3 linked regions of the Homo sapiens genome follow. The protein of the gene in region 3 interacts with the protein of the main gene of each other region in a pairwise test. Each region holds a gene or a part of one and is shown on either strand. Other genes may lie near its edges.

Region 1 (8,253 bases), on a different chromosome or scaffold from region 3:
CTTTAGGTAGCCATCAACTCACCTCTGGAATGTAAACTCCAGCCTGGCATGTATGTGTATGTGTGTGTGCCTATGGATGTGGATGAGCATTTCTATAATGATTTTCAGTTCCCACTACCACAATCCAAATGTCAAAACTTCTCCAAGGGGGCAAAGGGAGGGAATAAATTAATATGAATTTTAAATAAATCACAGAGCCTGATGGAACTGCTTCATGATGGGCATATAACTCAGAACCAAGTGCAATCAGTAAAGACCAGGAAAACCCAACATGGCCTTTCCTTCAACTAGGACTCATGGATGTCATGCTTACCAGCCAAAGTACAGTAGACTATGGTCTAATGCCAACACAAAGGCCATCCAGGGAATCTTGATGGTCCATCAAGCTGCCCCGGATGTCTGAGCCACAGGGCACTTTCCCCCTTTGCTTTGGAGAACATGAGCTTCATCTGAATGAGGTCCTATTTCTGGGCCTTAGGCTGCAGGAGTCCAAGAACGGATTATCTCAAGATACAGTGTTCCCGAAAGAGCATAGGCCCAGGGTGAGAAAACCCAGGTTCAAGTTCTGCCACCCACAGGCCCTCTCCCAGGCTCAGTTTCCCCATGAAGTTCTGTAACAAGTGGATTTTCAGGTCCCTTCTACCAGCTCCAAGTCTGTTTCTACAGATTAAACCCCAAGACAAAAGAGCTGACAGGAATCGAATCAATAAATGTGATTTGATAAATGTGTTCAGAACACAACAATGAATAACCTGCCCAAGATTCAGATTGAGAAACTGGAACTCAAACATAGAGCAGGTTTACAGAAATCCTCTGACTACCCTATGCCAAGGGTTCCCAAATCTGGCTGGAATGACCAGTGGCACTCATTAAAAATGTTTAAGCTTCTGGGCCCCTCTTGAGGTCCAGGGTAGAGCCTAGACATCTGTATTTTAAAATTCATTTATGTAATTTTAAATGGATGAATATCTTACATGGTTAAATAAGTGTGTGTGTGTGTGTGTGTGTGTGTGAGACAGAGTCTCACTCTGTCACCCAGGCTGGAGTGCAGTGGCGCAATCTCAGCTCACTGCAGCCTCCGCCTCCCAGATTCAAGTGATTCTCCTGCCTCAGCCTCCCGGGTAGCTGGAACTACAGGCGTGTGCCACTACACCCAGCTAATTTTTGTATTTTTTAAAGTAGACACAGGGTTTCACAATGTTGGCCAGGCTGGTCTGGAACTCCTGACCTCAAGTGTTCTGCCTGCCTTGGCCTCCCAAAGTGCTGGGATTACAGGCGTGAGCCACTGCACCCAGCCCATAGTTAAATAATTTTTTTAAAGATATAAAAAGATGTTCTGTTAAAAGTCTCCTTCCCACCTCTGTCTCCCAATTGCTCAGTTCCTACTCACTTATCTCCCTCAGGTAGCCAGTGTCATTGGGGCATGTGCCTGTGTGTGTGTCTGTGTGTGTGTGTCTTTGTGTGTGTCCTGAAATTCTTTTTATGCAAGCAAAAAAAAAACTCTACTCTCCTCCCCTTTTAAAAGACTACATGACAATAACATACTTTTTTCCACTGCATAGTATTCCATTACATGGAGGAAGCACCTGTCTCCTTTTAATGGGCATTTATTTGGTTCCAGGCTTATTGCAGATCCTGCTGCAGTGAGTATCTTTGCAGGCATGCCATTGCACACCTGCTGGAGTGTACCTGTTGCAGTGAGTATCTTTGCAGCCATGCCATTGCACACCTGCTGGAGTGTACCTGCTGCAGTATTGGTGGAGGCATGCCATTGCACACCTGCTGGAGTGCATCCTATAATACATTCCTCAAAGTAGCCTTCTGAGTCAAAGAGCACACACATTTATAACTTGAAAAAATGTTGACAAATTGCATCTTTTTTTTAACAGCTCCTATGTGATTTTAACACATTACTCAATCTGTGGGAGGGGAGACCATGCCCTGGACCAGTGCTGCTTAGTCAACATTTAACTTTTTAAACTGAAAATCACCTGGGGAGCTTGTTAAAATGCAGATTCTGATTCTGGAGTTCTAGGGTGGGCCCAAGAATCTGTATTTCTAGCAAACTCCCGGGTGATGCCAATACTGCTGGTCCATGGACCGCACTTTGAGTATCAAGACACTAGAGGACACATACTGAGCATAATTCCCAGGTGTCAGCTGCTATGCCATGAAGGCAATTAGACTTAGCATGCCCAGGACCTAAATTCCAGTCCCGGGACAGCAGTTCGCCAGCTGAGGGGCCTTGCTGGCCAAATCCCTACATTTTCTGAGCCTCAGTCGCCTCATCTGTAAAACAGGTGCAGTAAAGATAAGTATGTAAGGATTAAATAACATCGGTACATCTCAAAACCAATGTGCTGAGCAAAAGAAGCCAGACAATAGAGTACATCCCGTAAGATTCTATTTTTGTGGAACTGTAGAATAGGCAAAGTCAATCTATGGTGATAGAAATCAGAATGGGTGCCTCCGGTCTGGGGCAAAGGGGACTGACTGGGAAAGGGGAGGAGGGAACTTTCAGGGGTAGTGGAAATATCTCACTTGTTTTCGTGGTAACACGGGTATATACATTTGTCAAAACTCACTGAACTATGCACTTCAAATCTGTGCATTTTATAACATGTAAGTTATACCAAAATTTAAAAATAGATGAAAAGTAAATGATACAACTTCGTGTAAACTGTGACGTGCCATCAAAACAGAAGCCAGTCTTAGCTTAAGGAAATGTGCCACCTGCGTGCAGGGATGAGGTCATCGATCGACAGGGGACCAGAGACGGCGCTCCACCCCTGCATGGTAGCAGCGTGCTCCCAGCCCCGCGCCGCCGGGACGGCCCACGCCCTGCCTCGGTTTCCCCCGATGGCCGCCGCTTACTTGCTTCGGAACTCGTCGAGCGCGCGCTGCGCCTCGGTGCCCTGGCGCTCCAGCCGGGCGCGCTCGGCCTCCAGGTCCCGGACGCGCTGGCGGTTGCTCTCGACTTGGCGGGCGAGGGCGTCCTCGGGCCCGGCCAGCTCGCCCAGGCGCTGGAAGGCATCCAGCTGCCTCCGGAGCCCGGCATGGCGCTGCTCGAGGGCGCGGGCCCGCTGGACGTGGGCGGCCACGCGCTCGCCGAGCCCCTGCAGCGCCGCCAGGCTCGTTGCCCCAGCCCAGCCCTCGTCGGCCGGGCGCTCGGGCTCGGCGGCGCGCGAAGCCTCGTCGGCGTGCTCGTACTGCTCCTTGCGGGTCTGGAAGACGTAGCTGCGCCGGTACATGGCTGCTCTGGCGCGGGCGCGCGGGCGGCGCCGAGCCGGCTCTCCAGGAGGCCCCCGGCGCAGCCCGCAGCCCGCTAAATAAACACCGGAGGCCCCCGGCGCGCTGCTGGGACGTTCCAGAGCCGATCAGCAGTTGGGCGCCACGCTGGGCCCGGGCGCGGGAGAAGAAAAGAGCAGCGGCCCGCTTTGTGCGGCGGATTAGCGGCCCATACAGCTCCGGGGTTGGAAGGTTACGCTGGGCAATGAGGTTTTTGTTCCGTGATTGTTCAGGCCTGTTGCTTTTGATTGAATGGAGGGTCAGGGGACACGGGAGCCATGACGCTCTTTTCACTGGTTCCACTGGGGACTGTGAAGGAATCCCCAAGCGAACTCTTTAAACTTGGACTAGCTCAAGAGCCCAGGGCTTGTCACTTTGTCTCCTCTTGCATTCAAACTCAATTGTAGAACTCTTTAACAATGCCATTTTTTTTTTCTGATTACTTAAGCAATTCTTTTTTTTTTCTTTTGGTCTTTTTTATTTCCAATTGCTCGGTTATGCATGCAATTCTTTTTCATAATCATAACATGACGTTTAGGACCCTTCTGTATAGCAGAGGTTCTTAACCATGGATGCAAAATAAAATGGCATGTCTCCATTAAGTAGTGAGGTGTGGCGCAAGTAATTTCTTAGTAATACCCGTGCATAAAAGCCTACAATAACTTAGGAGACATGCACGGTTATGTTTTTATAATTCACCCATGCTCTGATGGAGTTTGACATGCTTTCTTGAATGGAAAAAACAAATAGAGCCCCACCCATGGGCCTGTAATAGGTGGTTCACGCCTGTAATCCTAGCACTTTGGGAGGCCGAGGCGGGCGGATCACCTGAGTTCGAGGCCAGCCTGGCCAACATGGTGAAACTCCGTCTCTACTAAAAATACCAAAATTAGCCAGGCGTGGTGGCGTGTGCCAGTAATCCCAGCTACCTGGGAGGCTGAGGCAGGAGAATCGCTGGAACCTGGGAGGCGGAGGCTGCAGTGAGCCGAGATCGCCCCACTGCACTCCAGCCTGGGTAACAGAGTGAGACTCCGTCTCAAAAAAAAAAAAAAAAAGAAAAAGAAAAAAAGATTGCTTTTTTCTTTTTCTTTTTTTAACATAAAATGTAATACAAAAAAATTTTAATAAAAAATGAGATGGGGTCTTGCTATGTTGCCCAGGCAGGACTCAAACTCCTGGGCTCAAGTGATCCGCCATTAATTGGCCAACCCTCAATTCGAGAATAATAAAGGATTTTGTGCCATTATGTTCCATTTTAATTTTTATTATGGAACTAATAGTTGGATTTTAAGGACAAGCTTTTAAAATATATATATATAATTAATAGCTAGACTTTGACAAATTTAAAAGTAAATTTAAGAAAAGAAATTAATACCACTTGATGAGAATGTTTCTGAATGTAAATATTTTGTCATATCTCCAACTTTAAAAATAAGTATCAAAAGGGTTGTTTTCTTAAAAGGATTAGTAGTACCATATAATTACTAACTATATGGATTGTGTGTGATTATACTACAAATTAAAGTCATAGTTATCAAAGATAGAGAAAGAAAATTACACAGATCTTTGTGGAGTTTATTATTACACCAAAATATTACCTCAAGATAATAGATTCCGTCTGGAATAAAGCTCTGCAAGGCCCTAAACTGTGCTGGTGGCATGGTTATTGTTCTATTTTCTTAAACCATTTAAAATTAGATTTGGCCAGGTGCAGTGGACCACACCTCTAATCCAGAACTTTGGGAGGCCAAAGTGGGAGGATCTCTTGAGGCCAGGAGTTCAAGACGAGCCTTGGCAACATAGTGAGACCCCCATTTCTTTTATTTATAAAAATAAAAATAATAAATAAAAATACATAAAATGTAATTGTATGGTCAAATTGAGGATAACCACATGAATATTTTTGTAGGTGCACATATACCATGCTGATAGCATGGTAAATTGACTTCAGGCTTCCTCACGAGAGCAAAACCAACATATAGCAAGAGTTATAAAATCATTTGTTCCCTATGATACCATGTATCAGTCAAATATTGCTACAGAACAAAATAGAAGTATTTATCACTGCATTCCCTGGGGCTGGGAGCTCAGCTGTCTTCCAGCTGTAGGTCTCCTTTCAGCAGGGGCTGCTCTGCTCCCAATGTCCCTCAAGCTTCTAAACTAGCAATGAAAAAAGCACAAGAGCAAGCCCAGCCACACAAGCTCATCCCAGGCCTTTGTTTGCATCATGTCTGCTGACATCTCATTGGTCAAAGCAAATCACATGGCCACAAATAAAGTCAAGAGGAAGCAAGGAGGAGGCAGGGCTCAGCCTGAGGCCCTGGCAAGGGTGTGGGTGGATAATCCCATCATGCTGGAGTGGAGAATCAGGACCCACAACTCAATCGACCACACATGGCAATACCATTTGAGAAAAATATATTCTAGAAACATAACAAAAAATTCTTTCAATTTAATCCAGTGAAATAAACACTCAGAAAATATCTCCTCACAAAGCGTAGCCTCAGAGTTAAATATTGCACAAAATCAAGTCTCTGCCCTCAGGGTGCAGGAGGCGAATCCATACTGACTAATGAAAACACAAGATAATCTGGACAACTTCTAAAATAAAGATCTTAGCAAAATGCTGTGGTTGTATTGTCTAACTTCAGGTGCACTGGGAAATGCAATCCTGCTATGTGCTTAGAAGGAGTGTGCAATATTTGTCAACAGCCCTAAAGACCATATCACTGATAGGAGACCATTCAGTAGGAGTAGAGATCGTATGCATAAGGAAGAAATCATTGCTGAATGAATTTGTTAATTCAAGAGACATGTTCGTAGAGATAGATTCCACAGGACTTGATGAAAGGTCAGCTATGGAAGAGTTACTCTAAATACAGTTGAATGGCACTAGTTTGGGGGCAGGGACAGGAAATGGATGTTTTAGAATAAGAAAGATCTGAGGTTAAGTTCTGGTCCCATCACTTCAGTAAGTGATTTAACCTATCTAGTCCCAGTATGGAGACTGGTAAAATGAGAATAATCACTTATGTAAGTAGGGTAACCACACATCCCAGTTTGCCTAAGACACATTTACACCCACTATCTCAGCGTAAATATAGCAAGCACCATCTTTCACTCTCAAGGGTATCTTGGTTTGTCTGAGAAATACACGTCTTTTATCTGGCCTGCATAACCTGAATATGTAGCCTATATCTGACCATAAGGAATCATCCAGATAAATCCCAAAGAAGGAACATCCTATTAATAAAAACAGAAGGGGGATGGTATTCTATAAAAATGTTAATATCATAAAAGACAAAGAGAAGCTATGAAAATGTTCCAGATTAAAGGAGACTGAAGAGACAGGACATCTAAATGCAGTATAGGGCCGAGTGTGGTGGCTCATGCCTGTAATCCTAGCACTTTGGAGGCTGAGGTGGGTGGATCATCTGAGGTCAGGAGTTCGAGACCAGCCTGGCCAACATGGTGAAACCCCATCTCTACTAATAATACAAAAAATTAGCCGGACGTCGTGGCTTGTGCCTGTAGTCCCAGCTACTCGGGAGGCTGAGACATGAGAATTCCTTGAATCCGGAGGGGTAGAGGTTGCAGTGAGCCAATATCACGCCACTGCACTCCAACCTAGGTGACAGAGTGAGACTCCATCTCAAAAATAAAAATAAATAAATAAATGCAATATGGATCCTAGACTGGATCTTGTATTGGAGGAGAAAAACTGCTATAAAGGTTATCACTAGGTTCATTAACAAAATTAGAATATAAATAGTAGATTAGAACATAAAATTGTATCAAGATTAAATTTACTGAAGTTTATGACTATGCTACAGCTATGTAAAATAATATCATTATTCTTAGAAAATACACTCTGAGGGCTCAGGCTGGGCACGGTGGCTCACGCCTGTAATCCCAGCACTTTGGGAGACCAAGGTGGGCGGATCATGAGGTCAGGAGTTCAAGACCATCCTAGCCAACATGGTGAAACCCCATCTGTACTAAAAATACAAAAAAATTAGCAAGGCATGGTGCTACACACCTGTAGTCCCAGCTACTTGGGAGGCTGAGGCAGGAGAATCACTTGAACCCAGGAGGCAGAGGTTGCAGTGAGTCGAGATAATGCCAATGCACTCCAGCCTGGCAACAGAGCGAGACTTCATCTCAAAAAAAGGAAAATATACTCTGAACTATCTAGGAGCAAAGACCCATGATGTATGCAACTTATTCTCAAATGATTCTGAATAAAATGACATGTATAAATATAAACATAAATAAGTATGAGAGATAGTAAGGAAATTAGACAAAATATTAAGAGGTGAATCTGGGTTGTTTGTACTATTCTTGCCATTTTTCCTAGAAAGTTTGAAATTATTTTCCAAAACACCTGCAAAAAGTGTGATCACCTTTGCAGTATAGACATTTAATAAATATTACTTGCTTTATGTTATAGCTATATATATGTATAATGGCTAAGAGAGGGAGAGGTGCAGAGAGGAGAATGGCTTAGCAAACTGCAGTAACAATAGGAGAAAATGGGCTATAACCATTGAACAATTTTACTTATTTATTTTATTTATGTATTTATTTTTTTAAAAAAACAGGGTCTTGCTATGTTACCCACACTGGTCTCGAACTCCCTGCCCTCAAGCAATCCTCCTGCCTCAGCCTCCCAAAGTGCTGGGATCACAGGTAAGAGTTAGCACACCTGGCCCCACCAAACAATTTTAACCTTGTGGAATATACTATGATATAAATAAAAATGCTTATAACAAACTTGAAGGGGAAAAGAAAAGCAAAATACCAGATGCATGGTAATTTTAGCAGTACAAAAATATCAGAAATTAGTGAAATATGCCAGGTTTAATGTTCATCATATCTTTTATTCCATTTAAAGTTGTTTAAGGCTGGGTGAAGTGGCTCATACCTACAATCCCAGCACTTTGGGAGGCCAAGGCGGGTGGACTG
Region 2 (7,982 bases), on a different chromosome or scaffold from region 3:
TGCCCTCCACCAAGCCAGCTAATTTTTGTATTTTTAGTAGAGACGGGGTTTCACCATGTTGGCCAGGCAGGTCTTGAACTCCTGATCTCAGGTGATCTGCCTGCCTTGGCCTCCCAAAGTGTTGGGATTACAGGCCTGAGCCACCATGCCCGGCCAACTTGTAGTTTCTATAGACATGTTAAACTTAACGTCAACATGGGGTTGAGTTGGGTGGAGGAAGATTGCAAAGATACACACCAACGTGTAAATAACAGTAGGATGAGGGTCTTGTGTGTGTATTTGTGTGTTTCTATATACTATTACATAAAACTTCTATAATGAGCATTAACATTTTGAAAAACTTTTTATTTTGAAATAATTATAGATTCACAGAAAGTTGCAAAGATGGTACAGAGAGTCCCCATGTACCTGTCAACAGTTTTCCCCAGTGGTTATATCTCACTTAAAGAGTACAATATCAAAACCAGGAAATAAACATTAGTGTGGTGTGTGTGTGTGTGTGTGTGTGTGTGTGTGTAGTTACAAGTCATTTTATTGTGTGTTTATTCCTGTAACCACCACTGCAATCAAGATACAGAACTATTCCATCACCACAAGGATCTCCCTGGTGATACCTCTTTGTAGTCACGCGTATATCCCTATCCCCATGATCCTTGACCCTGCAACTATGAATCTGTTCTCCATGTTATGTAAATGGAATCATACAGTACATGGCTGCTTGATGATACATTTTTTTCATTTAGCATAATGCCCTTGAGATGTATCTAATTTATTGTGTGTATCAATAGTTCATTCCTTTTTACTGCTGAGTCATATTCCATGGTACATGTACCATGGTTTGCTTAATGCATCACCCATTGAAGAACATTTGGATGGTTTCCAGGTTTTGAATATTATGAAGAAAACTGCTATTTTATTTCTGTACAGGTTTTTATGTGAACATATGTTTTCATTTCTCTGGGTTAAATGCCAAGGAGTGCAATTGCTGGGTTGTATGGTAAGCATACACAGTTAGACAGAAGGAATAAGTTACAGTGTTCAATAGCACAGCAGGATGACCATAGTTATCAATAATTTATTGTATATTTCAAAATGATTAGAAGATTTGGAATGTTCTCAACACAAAGACATGATAAATGCTTGAGGTAATGGATATCCCAATTACTCTGACTTGATTATCGAACATTGTATGAATGTATCAAAACCCCACAAATATGTACAACTATTATGTATCAGTAAAAAAAGGAATCTGACAAACTGTTTTACAGAGTGGCCATAACATTTATATTTTCACCATTAATGTATGCGTGTACCCAGTTTCTCTGCCTCCTTGCCGGCAGTTGGTATTTGCGCTATTTATTCTTTTAGCCATTCTGATGGATGTGCAGTGACATCTTGTCACTCCAGATCTCTGAAGTTCTGTCTGCAATTCTGTCCTCTCTGGTACTGTGCTCTGTGAACTCCAGTTGCCTTGGCTTCCTTGGACCCCCAGTTTTATCTCCTCAGCTCAGGAAGACTGGCGGACTCTGCCTGGGTCTCCCTCTCTGTGCCACAGCCTGAAAACTCTTTCTAGGAAATAAGCTGGGAGAATTGTAGGGTTCAGTTTTAACATCAATCTTTTCTACCCCTATCTCTTTACACCTATCTATCTGTCTGTCTATCTATCTACCTATCATTTATCCACCATCTATTTATTTATCATAAATTTTTCTTAACTACAAGCCAAGGGTTTTAGTATCAGAACTGCTATTAGTTATCTGTAGCATTTGGGACATTAACTTACTTGAGCCACTTCTTTGTTGGTGAAATGAGGGTCATCTTATATCAGCCTTCTCATAATTCCTTCTGAGAGATTCCAGGATACTGGTTGACTCTTCTAGAAGATACAGTGAGCAGTGTTGGTAGCTACGGTCCTTAGTATGTGCTATTTCTAAACAGGAAAATGATATTGATTGGGTGGGTAATGAGCATGTGTTGGTAATTGCTATGTAAGAGCAATAACAACAACAACTAATACATTTAGCCTTTTACATGCAGTGTCTTATATAATATTTACAACAGCCCTGTAAAGTAAGTGCTACTATTATCCAAATTTATTCATTTTTTATTTAAAAAATTTTTTTAGTATTATAAACCACTTTATGTCCAAGAACGATTCAAATTTAGAAGACGAGAAAACTGTAGCCTAGAAAAAGAAATAAAAATGAAAATTAAAAACCTGTCCAGTCTAAAGGTTATACTTACACAGACTTAGGTTCTTTCTTTGTATTTAATTAAAGGTTAATTTCAAATGATCTCTAGTAGTAACAAAACTCTTTAGTTATAAAGAAGCAGGTGATGCATGGTTGTTGAATACATTACCCCTGCTGACCTTAGACTGCTGCTGGGCTCAGCAGATAATTCTTGATTTTCTCTTCACATTGCAAATAGACCTCACCAGAATAAATGGGCAGAATAGACACCAAAGAGGGATAGCGCAAGCAAATGTGAGGGTGAAATGCAGTCAGTGCCTTGCAAAAGGAAGTGCTCAATACTGGTAGTCGGTGTCATTGCTCTTACTGCAAATTATAAACACCAGCACTGCAAAAGTCAGCCCAGTAGACTTTGTAAATCACAGAAGTGGCTCCTAGACCACCATTTGAAAAATTCTGCCTGAAGGACTAAGGAAAACATCTTCTTTTATTTTTATTTTATTTTTTTATACCACAGTTTAGGAAAACATCTTCTTAAAAGATCGTGTTTATGTCTACAGATGATTTTTATAGTGCCTTAACAGTCTCCAGAGTGGTTTTAAAAATATTATCTCAGAATGTCAATTTCAGCTAAAGAAGTGAACCTTAGGATCAACATTGTAACCCTCCTGGTTTTATTCACCCAGAGTATAGGGACTGATAATGATAATGCTGCTTTGGATAGTCTCCTATCTAGGGCTAAATGATCAGATTTGCAAAATCCAGATATTCTTATGGGAATGTGGTTATTGGCTAGGGGAATGGAAAGAGGGAGTAGAGAGTGGAAAACTGGATAAAGTTATAGGTAAAGATATGTGAAAACTCATGATTGTCTCAAATACTCTAAATCTTGTCATAATACACTTGTAAAGTAATAATCATGTTGGAGAGATGGCCAAATAAAGGCCAAAGATCTTGACACTGCAGAAATTATAGGAGAGGATTAAAGGAAGTACATGTGGCAGATATAAGAAAAGACTAAACTTGAGATTCATGCACAAGGTCAGGCTGCATAAACCACAGGATAGCGGGTGTAACTCAGGAGCAGAACAATTGATCCATGAAACAAAACTGTCTGCAGTTTCCCAGGCTGGAGAGATTTCCCGTCTTGGATGTCTGGATCTGTCTCAGTGCCCAGATAGCCTCACTTCAAAGTGTTTGTGGGAACAGAAAGAATTGGCTGAGTGTGTTTGTTCAGTGCTAGGCGGAGGAAGTGAAACGGGGAGTGGGTTTAGGAAGTAAGTGTGTGTTTAAGAGCACGTGGACCACCAGAAGATAACCATTTTTCTTCAGACTAGCAGCCAGGGCACTGCTCACGAAGAAGGAAACCCTGGGAGGGAAGAACTTGGGGAACGAGAGGACACAAGAATCTCTGCAGCTGCTTATGCATGTACGTAAGTCACAGAGGTGTTGGGTGCCTCAAGGAACAACATGGAAGTCCTCTCTCTTTTTTAAAATAAATAATTTTTTAATAAATTTTCGAGCACTTTGGGAGGCCGAGGCGGGCGGGTCACGAGGTCGGGAGATCGAGACCATTCTGGCTAACACGGTGAAACCCCGTCTCTACTAAAAAATACAAAAAATTAGCCGGGCGCGGTGGCGGGCGCCTGTAGTCCCAGCTACTTGGGAGGCTGAGGCAGGAGAATGGCGTGAACCTGGGAGGCGGAGCTTGCAGTGAGCCGAGATCGCGCCACCGCACTCCAGCCTGGGCGACAGAGAGAGACTCCGTCTCAAAAAAAAAAAAAAAAAAAGGAATCTGTCATTACAACCTTCTCTCACAAAGAACTCCAGGCGCAGACAGCATCACCACAGCATTCTACCAACCATTTACAGGGAAAGTAATGCACGTCCACAAAACTCTTCCAGAAAGACAAGGGAGCACTCACCAGCTCCTGAGGCCAACGTAGCCTCAGTCCCTAACCCAGCAAGGACAGCAGCGGAGAGGAGCTCACAGGCCAGCCCCCGCCACACGTACACACCACTGCGAGGCTCCAAAGCTCAAGCAGCGTGTATCCAGCGAATACAACAAGAATAATGAAAAAGCGTTATCTGATCAATTGCTAGAGGAGCAGAAGTAACTCTGGCAAACCTCACTGAATGTGAATCCTGAAAGTGCCTTGATCTGCGGTTCTACAAGTTATGGTGCTGGAGGTCTCAGCCAATGCTGTAGGGTAGGACAAAGAAAGAGCTCCAGTGCCAGACAAGAAAAAGTAAAACTCTGATTGATTCACCCATGAAACAGTGTCTGTGTTTAGAAACCCCAAAAGAATATATAGACAAATCATAAGGATGAAAAAGTGAGTTTGCTCCCTCTCCCTCTCCCTCTCCCTCTCCCTCTCCCTCTCCCTCTCCCTCTCCCTCTCCCTCTCCCTCCACGGTCTCCTTCCACGGTCTCCCTCTGATGCCGAGCCAAAGCTGGACGGTACTGCTGCCATCTCGGCTCACTGCAACCTCCCTGCCTGATTCTCCTGCCTCAGCCTGCCGAGGGCCTGCGATTGCAGGCGCGCGCCACCACGCCTGACTGGTTTTCGTACTTTTTTGGTGGAGACGGGGTTTCACTGTGTTGGCCGGGCTGGTCTCCAGCTCCTAACCGCGAGTGATCCGCCAGCCTTGGCCTCCCAAGGTGCCGGGATTGCAGACGGAGTCTGGTTCACTCAGTGCTCAATGGTGCCCAGGCTGGAGTGCAGTGGCGTGATCTCAGCTCGCTACAACCTCCATCTCCCAGCCGCCTGCCTTGGCCTCCCAAAGTGCCGAGATTGCAGCCTCTGCCTGGCCGCCACCCCGTCTGGGAAGTGAGGAGCGTCTCTGCCTGGCCGCCCATCGTCTGGGATACGAGGAGCCTCTCTGCCTGGCTGCCCAGTCTGGAAAGTGAGGAGCGTCTCTGCCCGGCCGCCATCCCATCTAGGAAGCGAGGAGCGCCTCTTCCCCGCCGCCATCCCATCTAGGAAGTGAGGAGCGTCTCTGCCCGGCCGCCCATCGTCTGAGATGTGGGGAGCACCTCTGCCCCGCCGCCCTGTCTGGGATGTGAGGAGCGCCTCTGCTGGGCCGCAACCCTGTCTGGGAGGTGAGGAGCGTCTCTGCCCGGCCGCCCCGTCTGAGAAGTGAGGAAACCCTCTGCCTGGCAACCGCCCCGTCTGAGAAGTGAGGAGCCCCTCCGTCCGGCAGCCACCCCGTCTGGGAAGTGAGGAGCGTCTCCGCCCGGCAGCCACCCCGTCCGGGAGGGAGGTGGGGGGGGGTCAGCCCCCCGCCCGGCCAGCCGCCCCGTCCGGGAGGTGAGGGGCTCCTCTGCCCGGCCGCCCCTACTGGGAAGTGAGGAGCCCATCTGCCCGGCCAGCCGCCCCGTCCGGGAGGGAGGTGGGGGGGGTCAGCCCCCCGCCCGGCCAGCCGCCCAGTCCGGGAGGTGAGGGGCGCCTCTGCCCGGCCGCCCCTACTGGGAAGTGAGGAGCCCCTCTGCCCGGCCAGCCGTCCCGTCCGGGAGGGGGGAGGGGGGGTCAGCCCCCTGCCCGGCCAGCCGCCCCGTCCGGGAGGGAGGTGGTGGGGGTCAGCCCCCCGCCCGGCCAGCCGCCCTATCCAGGAGGTGAGGGGCGCCTCTGCCCGGCCGCCCCTACTGGGAAGTGAGGAGCCCCTCTGCCCGGCCAGCCGCCCAGTCCGGGAGGGAGGTGGGGGGATCAGCCCCCCGCCTGGCCAGCCGCCCAGTCCAGGAGGGAGGTGGGGGGTCAGCCCCCCGCCCGGCCAGCCGCCCCGTCCGGGAGGGAGGTGGGGGGGTCAGCCCCCCGCCCGGCCAGCCGCCCCGTCCGGGAGGGAGGTGGGGGGGGTCAGCCCCCCGCCCGGCCAGCCGCCCCGTCCGGGAGGGAGGTGGGGGGATCAGCCCCCCGCCTGGCCAGCCGCCCCGTCCGGGAGGTGAGGGGCGCCTCTGCCCGGCCGCCCCTACTGGGAAGTGAGGAGCCCCTCTGCCTGGCCAGCCGCCCCGTCCGGGAGGGGGGAGGGGGGGTCAGCCCCCCGCCCGGCCAGCCGCCCCGTCCGGGAGGGAGGTGGTGGGGGTCAGCCCCCCGCCCGGCCAGCCGCCCTGTCCGGGAGGTGAGGGGCGCCTCTGCCCGGCCGCCCCTACTGGGAAGTGAGGAGCCCCTCTGCCCGGCCAGGACCCCGTCTGGGAGGTGTGCCCAGCGGCTCATTGGGGATGGGCCATGATGACAATGGCGGTTTTGTGGAATAGAAAGGCGGGAAGGGTGGGGAAAAAATTGAGAAATCGGATGGTTGCCGGGTCTGTGTGGATAGAAGTAGACATGGGAGACTTTTCATTTTGTTCTGTACTAAGAAAAATTCTTCTGCCTTGGGATCCTGTTGATCTGTGACCTTATCCCCAACCCTGTGCTCTCTGAAACATGTGCTGTGTCCACTCAGGGTTAAATGGATTAAGGGCGGTGCAAGATGTGCTTTGTTAAACAGATGCTTGAAGGCAGCATGCTCGTTAAGAGTCATCACCACTCCCTAATCTTAAGTACCCAGGGACACAAACACTGCGGAAGGCTGCAGGGTCCTCTGCCTAGGAAAACCAGAGACCTTTGTTCACTTGTTTATCTGCTGACCTTCCCTCCACTATTGTCCTATGACCCTGCCAAATCCCCCTCTGCGAGAAACACCCAAGAATGATCAATTAAAAAAATAAATAAATAAATAAATAAAATTTTCAACTTTACAAACAAATGTGATAATAATTCATGGAACTCATGAATATTCTTTATCCAGGTACATTATTTTTTTAAACTTCCCTTATTTATTTATTTATTTATTTATTTATTTATTTATTTAGAGATAGATTCTCACTCCGGTTGCCCAGGCTGGGGTGTAGCAGTTGGATCATGGCTCACTGCAGCCTCAACTTCCTGGGCTCCAACCATCCTCCCACCTCAGCCTGCCTGGTAGCTGGAACTGAAGACACACGCCACCAAGCCAGGCTAATTTTTTCATATTTTTTGTAGAGATGGGGTTTCACCATGTTGCCCAGGCTGGTCTCAAACTCCGGGACTCAAGTGATCCACCTGCCTCGGTCTCCCAAAGCACTGGAATTGCAGGCATGAGCCACTGCGCCCAGGCCCCCTATTTATTTTTTATCATTTTCTCTCTCTCTCTGTAAACACACACATGTATACATATCCATATATCTATATTCCGAAGCATTTGAGAGTATATTGCATATGTTGTGCTCTTTTCCTGCTTAATATTTCAGTGTGCATCTCCTAAGAAGAAGGATATTTTCTTAAACAATCAGGGTACAGTTTTACATTCAGTATATCAAATACATATATACAGTGATTCTCCCTACCCAAAGTTTCAGTTACCCATGGTCAACGACGGTCTGAAACTATTAAATGGCAAATTCCAGAAATAAACAATTCATAATTTAATGTTGCATGCTGTTCTGAGTAATGTGATGAAATCTCTCACCGTCTCACTCCATCCTGCCTGGGATGTGAACCATCCCTTTGTCCAGCGTGTCCATGTTGTAGACACCACCCACCCATTAGCTACTTAGTGGCCAATATCAGATGCACCGTCACAGTATCTCAGCGCCTGTGTTCACATAACCCTTATTTTACCTAGTAATAGCCGCAAAGTGCAAGAATGATGATGCTGGCAATTCAGACACGTCAAAAAGAACCCGTAAAGTGCTCCGTTTGAGTGAAAAGGTGAAAGTGTCTCAACTTAATAAGGAAAGGGGGGAAAAACATGCTGCAATTGGTAAAATCTACA
Region 3 (7,321 bases):
GTAGGGGTTGGAGAAATGGGTGAGTGAAAGGATGTTTTCTAGGCTGGAGAACATTTTGGGAATCCAGAATTGATGAAGACCCTGCTGGGAAGGTTCTTGTTGATACTTGGGGGATAGAGGGAGTATGGTGGGAGAAAGGACAGAAAAGCCTCTCCTATTTTTCTTTTCATAGCTTTTTATAATTCTTATGGTTCTCAAATCTGGCTGCATATTAGAATCATCCAGAGAGCTTTAAAAATCACAAAGTCCCTCTCCTCTGTCTGATTTGGTTGGTCTGGGATGGCGATTTTTGAAAATGCTCTGAAATAATTCTGCTGCGTAGCCAGGATCAAGAACCACTAAATAGTAATCAAGAGCTCAGAAACAGCCTTTTGCCTTAACTCAGACATCTACCTTATTTTCTCTACTTTTCCACATTTTCCTTCCTTGTCACTTTTCATCCTCTGTCTCAAGATTACAAAGTCAGAAATGGGTGGGAGATGGAGAAGGGAAGAACAAACCCTATGCATCCTATTTTCTGGTTAATTCCTGTATTATTTATGAGGTTTAATAAAAGTTGTTTTTCTTCCATGAATATAATGTATACTATTTAACAAAAACTTGAGAAATACTCAAAAACAAAAAAGAAAAAACATCTCAAAGTGTCAGACTGATCCATCACTCAAAGGCAACGACTGCTAATCCCATTTTAGTCTTTTCTTTCTAAAATTTTTTCTCAATGCCTAGTTTCTTTGTTTGAATGCTTTACCCTACTGTATATACCAGGAAGTGGCAAACTGCAGTCCACAGGCCAAATCCATCTCACCGCTTATTTTTGTAAATAAAGTTTTATTGGAACACAGCTATGCTCATTAGCTACCTATTGGCTACAGCTGCTTTTACACTGCAGTGGCAGCGCTGAGGAGTTACAACAGAGGCCATCTGGCCCAAGAAGCCTGAAATATTTACTGTTTGGTCCTTTACAGAGAATATTTTTTGGCTTCTGGCATATACCATTCTGTACTCTCATTTTCTCCTCATTTTACCTCATATTATGAACACATTCCTATTTTATAAATGCTTCATAAACATTAATTCTAATAACTGCCTGATATTTTACTGCACATAGGTAGGTTGTGGCTTAGATTTTCTTCTACTAGTAAATGTGTATGTTTTTTTCACTCTTATAATGCTTCAGTGAGTATATTTGGACACAGATGATTTATTTTTTCAAATATTCTTTTTTTTTTTTTTTTTTTGAGACAGAGTCTTGCTCTGTTGCCCAGGCTGGAGTGCAGTGGCCCAATCTTGGCTCACTACAAGCTCCGCCTCCCAGGTTCACACCATTCTCCTGCCTCAGCCTCCCGAGTAGCGGGGACTACAGGCACCTGCCAATGCGTCCGGCTAATTTTTTGTATTTTTAGTAGAGACAGTGTTTCACCCTGTTAGCCAGGATGGTATCGATCTCCTGACCTCATGATCCGCCCGCCTTGGCCTCCCAAAGTGCTGGGATTACAGGCGTGAGCTACCACGCCCGGCCTCAATTATTCTTTCAGGATTGTATTCAGATTATTCAGTTGGTAGCTAGGGGCATTTTAACACTCTTGGTGCATATTACTAAATTTCTTATTCAAAGGCAGTGCACTAGTTTATGCTCTTCAGTAATACAGTAGAGAACCTACTTCTCCACATACTTGCCAGCATTTTTACCATTTTAAACATTTTCTACTTTTAGATAGGTAAACAAAAAGCTATTATTTTAATTTTCATTTCTTCTGTTTCTAATGAGGTTGAACTTGTTACTAAACCGTTGTTATTTCTTCGTCTGCACATTGACTAGTTTGCAGCTCAGCGTGGCCTCCTTCTGCATAGGGCAGAGTGGAGGATGCTGGTCCTGCCTCTCACCTTAGCTTGGAGCAGGGCTCCTGCCTCCACCCGGTTCTTTTCAACATCTCTCTCCCACTGAATTCTGATCGTCTCAAGGATGTCGTCCAGACCAGTGCCAATGGGAGCATCCATTTGTTCCAGCTCACACCCTGCCAACTGTTTGTGCAGCAGCTTCACATCCTGAAAACAACAATATACATCTTAGATGAGTTACGGGGGGAAATAAATGGCATAGAATTCTAGCCAGCAGAAAACCAGCTCTGTGGGCAATTCTTTTCTCATTCCACAACTGCCAGACACAGGCTTCACAGAGACTGGGAAAGTCCCTGACCTTCTTCCCAGCGTAAGTGTAATTTCTCTTTTCCCAAGGATGCATTTCTCCCTCTCTCCCTCCCTTCCTTCCTTCCTTCCTTTCCTTCTCTCTCTTTCTTTCTTCCTCCCTCCTTCCCTCCCCCTCCCTCCCTCCTTCCTTCCTTCCTTCCTTCCTTCCTTCCTTCCTTTCCTTCTTTCCTTCTTTCTCTTTCTCTCTCTCTTTCTCTCTTTCTTTCCGTCTGTCTTCCTCTCTCTCTCTCCTTCCTTCCTTCCTTCTTTTTTTTGACAGGGTCTCACTCTGTCACCCAGGCTGGAGTGCAGTGACATGATCTCAGCTCATTGCAGCCTCCATCTCTTGGGCTCAAACAGTCCTCCCACCTCAGTCTCCTGAGTAGCTGAGACTACAGGCACAGGCACGGCACACACCACCATGCCCAGCTAATTTTTGTATTTTTAGTGGAGACAGGGTTTCACCATGTTGCCCAGGCTGGTCTTGAACTCCTGGGCTCAAGTGATCCCCTGCCTTGGCCTCTCAAAGTGCTGGGATTACAGGCTTGAACCACCATGCCTAGCACCAAGGATGCATTTCTTAGGTTGGTCTCCACAAGCCCAGGCCCAAAGCAGAAATCAAAATAAAACAAACAAACAAACAAACAAACAAACAAACAAAAAACCACATGTATACATATGTAACTAACCTGCACATTGTGCACATGTACCCTAAAACTTAAAGTAAAATAAAACAAAAACAAAAACAAAAACAAAGTAAGCAACAACAGCACAGGGCATTTATGCATAAAGCCAGACAAGGATGAAAGAGACTTAAAAGATAACTTTGGCATCTCTAAATGGTTACTGTTGGAGAGTAGTCTTAAATCACTGAGCTAAGAACAAGAAGAAATGGGCTTACAGTTGCTGGTTAGCTTAAGTTGGTCTCAAGAAAGAACTTCCCAATGTGAGCATCGTTAAGTGGGTTTTGACTCTTTCAACTTGAAGCAGCCTAAATCTTGGATCAGACAGTAATATGTGTGAGGTGGTTTAGAATTGCTGAAGTCTCGCAGGGAACTAGACCCCATAACTGTTGGAGGTCCTCTTCAGTTCTGTCACTCAATAATCTGACCCAGTTTTGTTAATGAGTAGATGTCAACCACAGCTTGGATCTACCCTCAGAGTTGTTTTGTTTGTATAATACAGTGTTGAAAAAAAAACCTGACATAGAATGCATTGAGGAGGGGTTGCTCCCTCTAATTTAACACAAGTTCCCTCATTTGCTAGTGCCAAGACTGGCTGCCTTCCCCTGTTTCTGTACCACACTGGTTCCTGAAGCTATTTGAGTTTGAGACTGCTGGGGTAACCTGACCCACTTCAAGGATCTGAAAGTATTTTACAGGTATGTTCCCTGCAGTCCTGGGCACGCAATGTGGAGAGTCAGAAATGAGCTACTGTGGCCTTGTTATGAAGCACAGGCAGACAGATGTGAACTTCTGGTCTTGTGGCCAACCCAGCAACCCCAGCCCCCTCCTACCTCTTCATAGTTTCTTGATAGAGAGCCAAGTTCTTCTTTCAGACTTTCTATTTGACTCTCCAGGTCCATTTTAGTCAAATTAGCCTCATCAATGACTTTATACAGAGAGTTAATTTCCTCTTCTGCCGCCTTTCGAAATGGCTGCTCATTTTCATATCTGCAGATAAAGGAACTTAATTAGCATAACTGAGTAGCCCAAAAGAAAAAGAATCAGATTATAAATGTTACCAACAGGCCAATTATGTGATAGTTAGACAATGAATGGTAAAAGTCACTGTTTCAATAGATTTGAGGGCACTGTTAGTGCAGTTGTCACACATTGATTTATTAAAATGAAGGCAATTGCAGCCAACTTCTGATAACCTGGCTTCCCGGGCTACCAGCCTCATGGGAGTGTTGCAACACAGAACTCCAGGGAAAACTCAGGAGTTCAGATCCAGGTTAGGGGATCCGGCATCTTCATCGCTATCCTGATTGTCCTCCTTTTCAACCAAGGATCCTTTAACAAACATTACTGACAACCTGCTAAGCACCAGGGTGGGGACCCCAAAATAAGAAATGTGGTTTCTGTCTCCAAAGCACCCATGTTAAAAGTGTCCATCTCCAGGAGAGTGGCTGCAAACCCAGATGCCTTCAGGGACTGAGTGGGAGGTGTAGCTGAGCACGGTTCTCAAGCCTGGATGCACATTAAGTCACCTGGTGAGCTCTAAAACTGCTGAAGCCTGGACCCAACCCCTGGGGACTCTGATTTAATTAGTCTATGGCTTGTGCACTGCACTGACATTTTTAAGTGCCCAGGTAATTCTGATATGCCCAGGTTGGAGAATCATTACTGTAAGCTAGTAGTTCTCAAAGTATTTGAGTCCCAGGACCAGCAGGATCAGCATCCCTGGGAACTTGTTAGGAATATAAATTTGGGGCCCTTCTCCAGACCCATTGAGTCAGAAATTCAACAGGGTGGGGCGCAGCAATCTCTGTTTTCTATATGGCCCCTGGGTGATTCTGAGCATTCCAGAGTTTGAGAACCCTGCTCTAAACCAACTGACAGTGGGCAAAATCTTTGAGCCCTTGGGGCCTACTTTATGTTTACAAGGAGGGGTGTGAGCTGGATAATCATGGCTCTGTTATCCTGCCAGCTTCCCCTGAGGTAGAAGGTGGATGATGCAGGCTCCAGAACAGCATTATCCACACTTGCCTAGGAGTCTAGGGATGTGGAGGGACTGTCGCCTCTGCTGTAAGACATTACCTCTCTTTAAAGTCATCTGCTCCGGCCTGGATAGTTTCTGTCTGCAGCATGAGCCGGGCATTTTCCAAGACTGCCTCACCCACCTAGAGCGATCACACACACCAAAGGAGACAAGGTCACTGGGAGCGTCAAGATCACTTACCACCATGACTTGTGTTAGGCACAGAGGCTCTGGGGGACCTCAGAGAACCTTTCTTACAGCAAATATTTGTGGAATTAAGATGTCCCTCTCTTTGGACAATGGTCAGGGTGGGGGGATATAAATAATAAGGCATAAAATCTGGATATCTTCTAAGAGTTTTTAGAGTGGGATTTTTGGCACAAAAAGACTATTCAAAGGCAGACTTGTTCATAGCCTCTGTCACAGTGACAAGCTTTCATCTCTCCAGGGCAGAGTCCGGCTCCTTAGATGAAGTTTCACTGGCTTTGCCTAGCAGCTCTTAAAATTTCTGGTCATGGATGCCTTTGGAAGGCTGGTGAAAGCTCTAGATGAGTGCTGAGAGAGCTTCCTGTGACGGTGGAAATGCTCTGTCTGCACTGTCCAGCATGGTGGCCACCCGTGGCTACCGTATTGGGCAGCGTGGCTCTAGAGTTTCGTCTCCCCCAAAACATACACGTGAACATAAACATTGTGGATATAGTTTAGGGGTTTCATGGAGCCTTGAGGAGTGGTTTTTCAAACTTGAATCCCCAAGCCTCTCAGGATCTCCCACAGGTAGGGAATGAGGGGTGTCCTCCCTTCAACCCAAGAAACTCCTTTATATATATATATATATATATATATATATATATATATATATATATATATATATATATATATATATATATAAATGGTGAGCTGAAGGCTCTGATAGGGGGAGCCTGCAGGGTGGAGCCAAATCCCAGCTATGGGAGAAGAAAATAACTGCTTTCCCCTTGCTCCAGTGTGGCTGTCTTATTTTGTTTCATTTCATTGAATTACTTTTTTTGTTTTTTCTTTGAGACAGAGTCTTGCTTTGTTGCCCAGGCTGGAGTGCAGTGGCACAATATCTGCTCACTGCAACCTCTGCCTCCCAGATTCAAGATATTCTCGTGCCTCAGCCTCCTGAGTAGCTGGGATTACAGGCATGTGCCACTGCGCCCAGCTAATTTTTGTATTTTTAATAGAGATGGGGTTTCACCATGTTGGCCAGGCTGGTCTCGAACTCCTGACCTCAAATTATCCACCCATCTTGGCCTCCCAGAGTCCTGGGGTTACAGGTGTAAGCCACCAAACCCTGCCATTTTCATTGAATTCCCCACTAGCAAAGCTAATCATTTCTGTTCCAGCTTGGCCTGGGGCACACTGGGGAGCAGGCAGACTAGGGTGTCTCCCTTTCCCAGTTCTTAATCACTCCTGTCTCTCACCTCTGGTGCCTGGAGTTCTCCTTCTGGTTGATAAAGAACTTGCAACTCATTCACATTTAAGTATCAAAGGACTAATATTGGCTTAAAATAGTGATTTATATCCTTCTTTTAAGGTAACAATTCCTACCCTCCAAAATTAAAGCTTATAGAAAACCTATGTACAGTTGTCCTTTGGTATCTATGGGGTCTTGGTTCCAGTCCCCCACGGATGCTCAAGTCTCTTATATAAAATGATGTAGTATTTGCATATAACCTACACACACATCCTTCCATATACTTTAAATCATCTCAAGATTACTTATGATACCCAATACAATGGAAATGCTATGTACATAGTTGTTATTTATTGTGTTATTTAGAAAATAATGACAAGAAAAAAGCCCACATGTTCAGTATAAACGCAATCATCTATTTTTTAAAAAATATTTTGATCTACAGTTGGTTGAATCCATGGATGTGGAACCCATGGATGTGAAGGACTGACTGTACTTTGCACTAGTGGTTCTCAAAGTGTGGGCCCTGGACCAGTGGCAGCAGCATCACCTGGGAACTTGTGAGAAATGCACTTTTCAGCTCCTGTTTCAGATGGACCTATCAGAATCTCTGCAGGTGGGTCCCAACAATTTGTGTCTCAGCAAGCTTTCCAGGGGCTTATGATGCATACTCAACCTTGAGAACCCCGGTTTCACATGGCCCTGCCCCCAGGCCTGCTCTAGCTGCCTCCCTGCTGCACCTGGAATCCCTCTGTGCCTTTGCACCTGCTGCCTCCATTGAGAGCAACTTGTTTCACTACCTCCCCACTCCCAGCCCTCAGTCTGAGAAAGCCTGCTCCAGTATAATGCTCATTTCAAACACGGCTTCCCCATGAAACTTTTCTATTTATTCACTCATTCATTCTTGCCTTAATTTCTTCAGCACATAATTACTGTTTATGCCAGGCTCTGTCCTGTTTGTTGAGAAACCAGCCGCTACTGTAGGAGATGAGG

What was found.
Region 1: the proteins of BFSP2 (region 3) and BFSP1 interact in binary tests that used the Homo sapiens proteins (3 or more experiments, as listed by UniProt).
Region 2: the proteins of BFSP2 (region 3) and RNASE10 interact in binary tests that used the Homo sapiens proteins (3 or more experiments, as listed by UniProt).

The regions. Positions count from the first base shown.
Region 1 is NC_000020.11:17,528,079-17,536,331, forward strand, and holds the start of BFSP1 (filensin), read right to left. Parts: upstream 3,302-8,253; 5' UTR 3,252-3,301; coding exon 2,875-3,251; intron 1-2,874. UniProt on the Homo sapiens protein: Required for the correct formation of lens intermediate filaments as part of a complex composed of BFSP1, BFSP2 and CRYAA. Involved in altering the calcium regulation of MIP water permeability.
Region 2 is NC_000014.9:20,500,725-20,508,706, forward strand, and holds the start of RNASE10 (inactive ribonuclease-like protein 10 precursor), read left to right. Parts: upstream 1-4,812; 5' UTR 4,813-5,295; intron 5,296-7,982. UniProt on the Homo sapiens protein: Secreted proximal epididymal protein required for post-testicular sperm maturation and male fertility. May be involved in sperm adhesion to the egg zona pellucida. Does not have ribonuclease activity.
Region 3 is NC_000003.12:133,445,028-133,452,348, reverse strand, and holds part of BFSP2 (phakinin), read right to left. Parts: intron 6,945-7,321; exon of another isoform or gene 6,774-6,944; intron 5,033-6,773; coding exon 4,950-5,032; intron 3,861-4,949; coding exon 3,704-3,860; intron 3,569-3,703; exon of another isoform or gene 3,454-3,568; intron 2,047-3,453; coding exon 1,885-2,046; intron 1-1,884.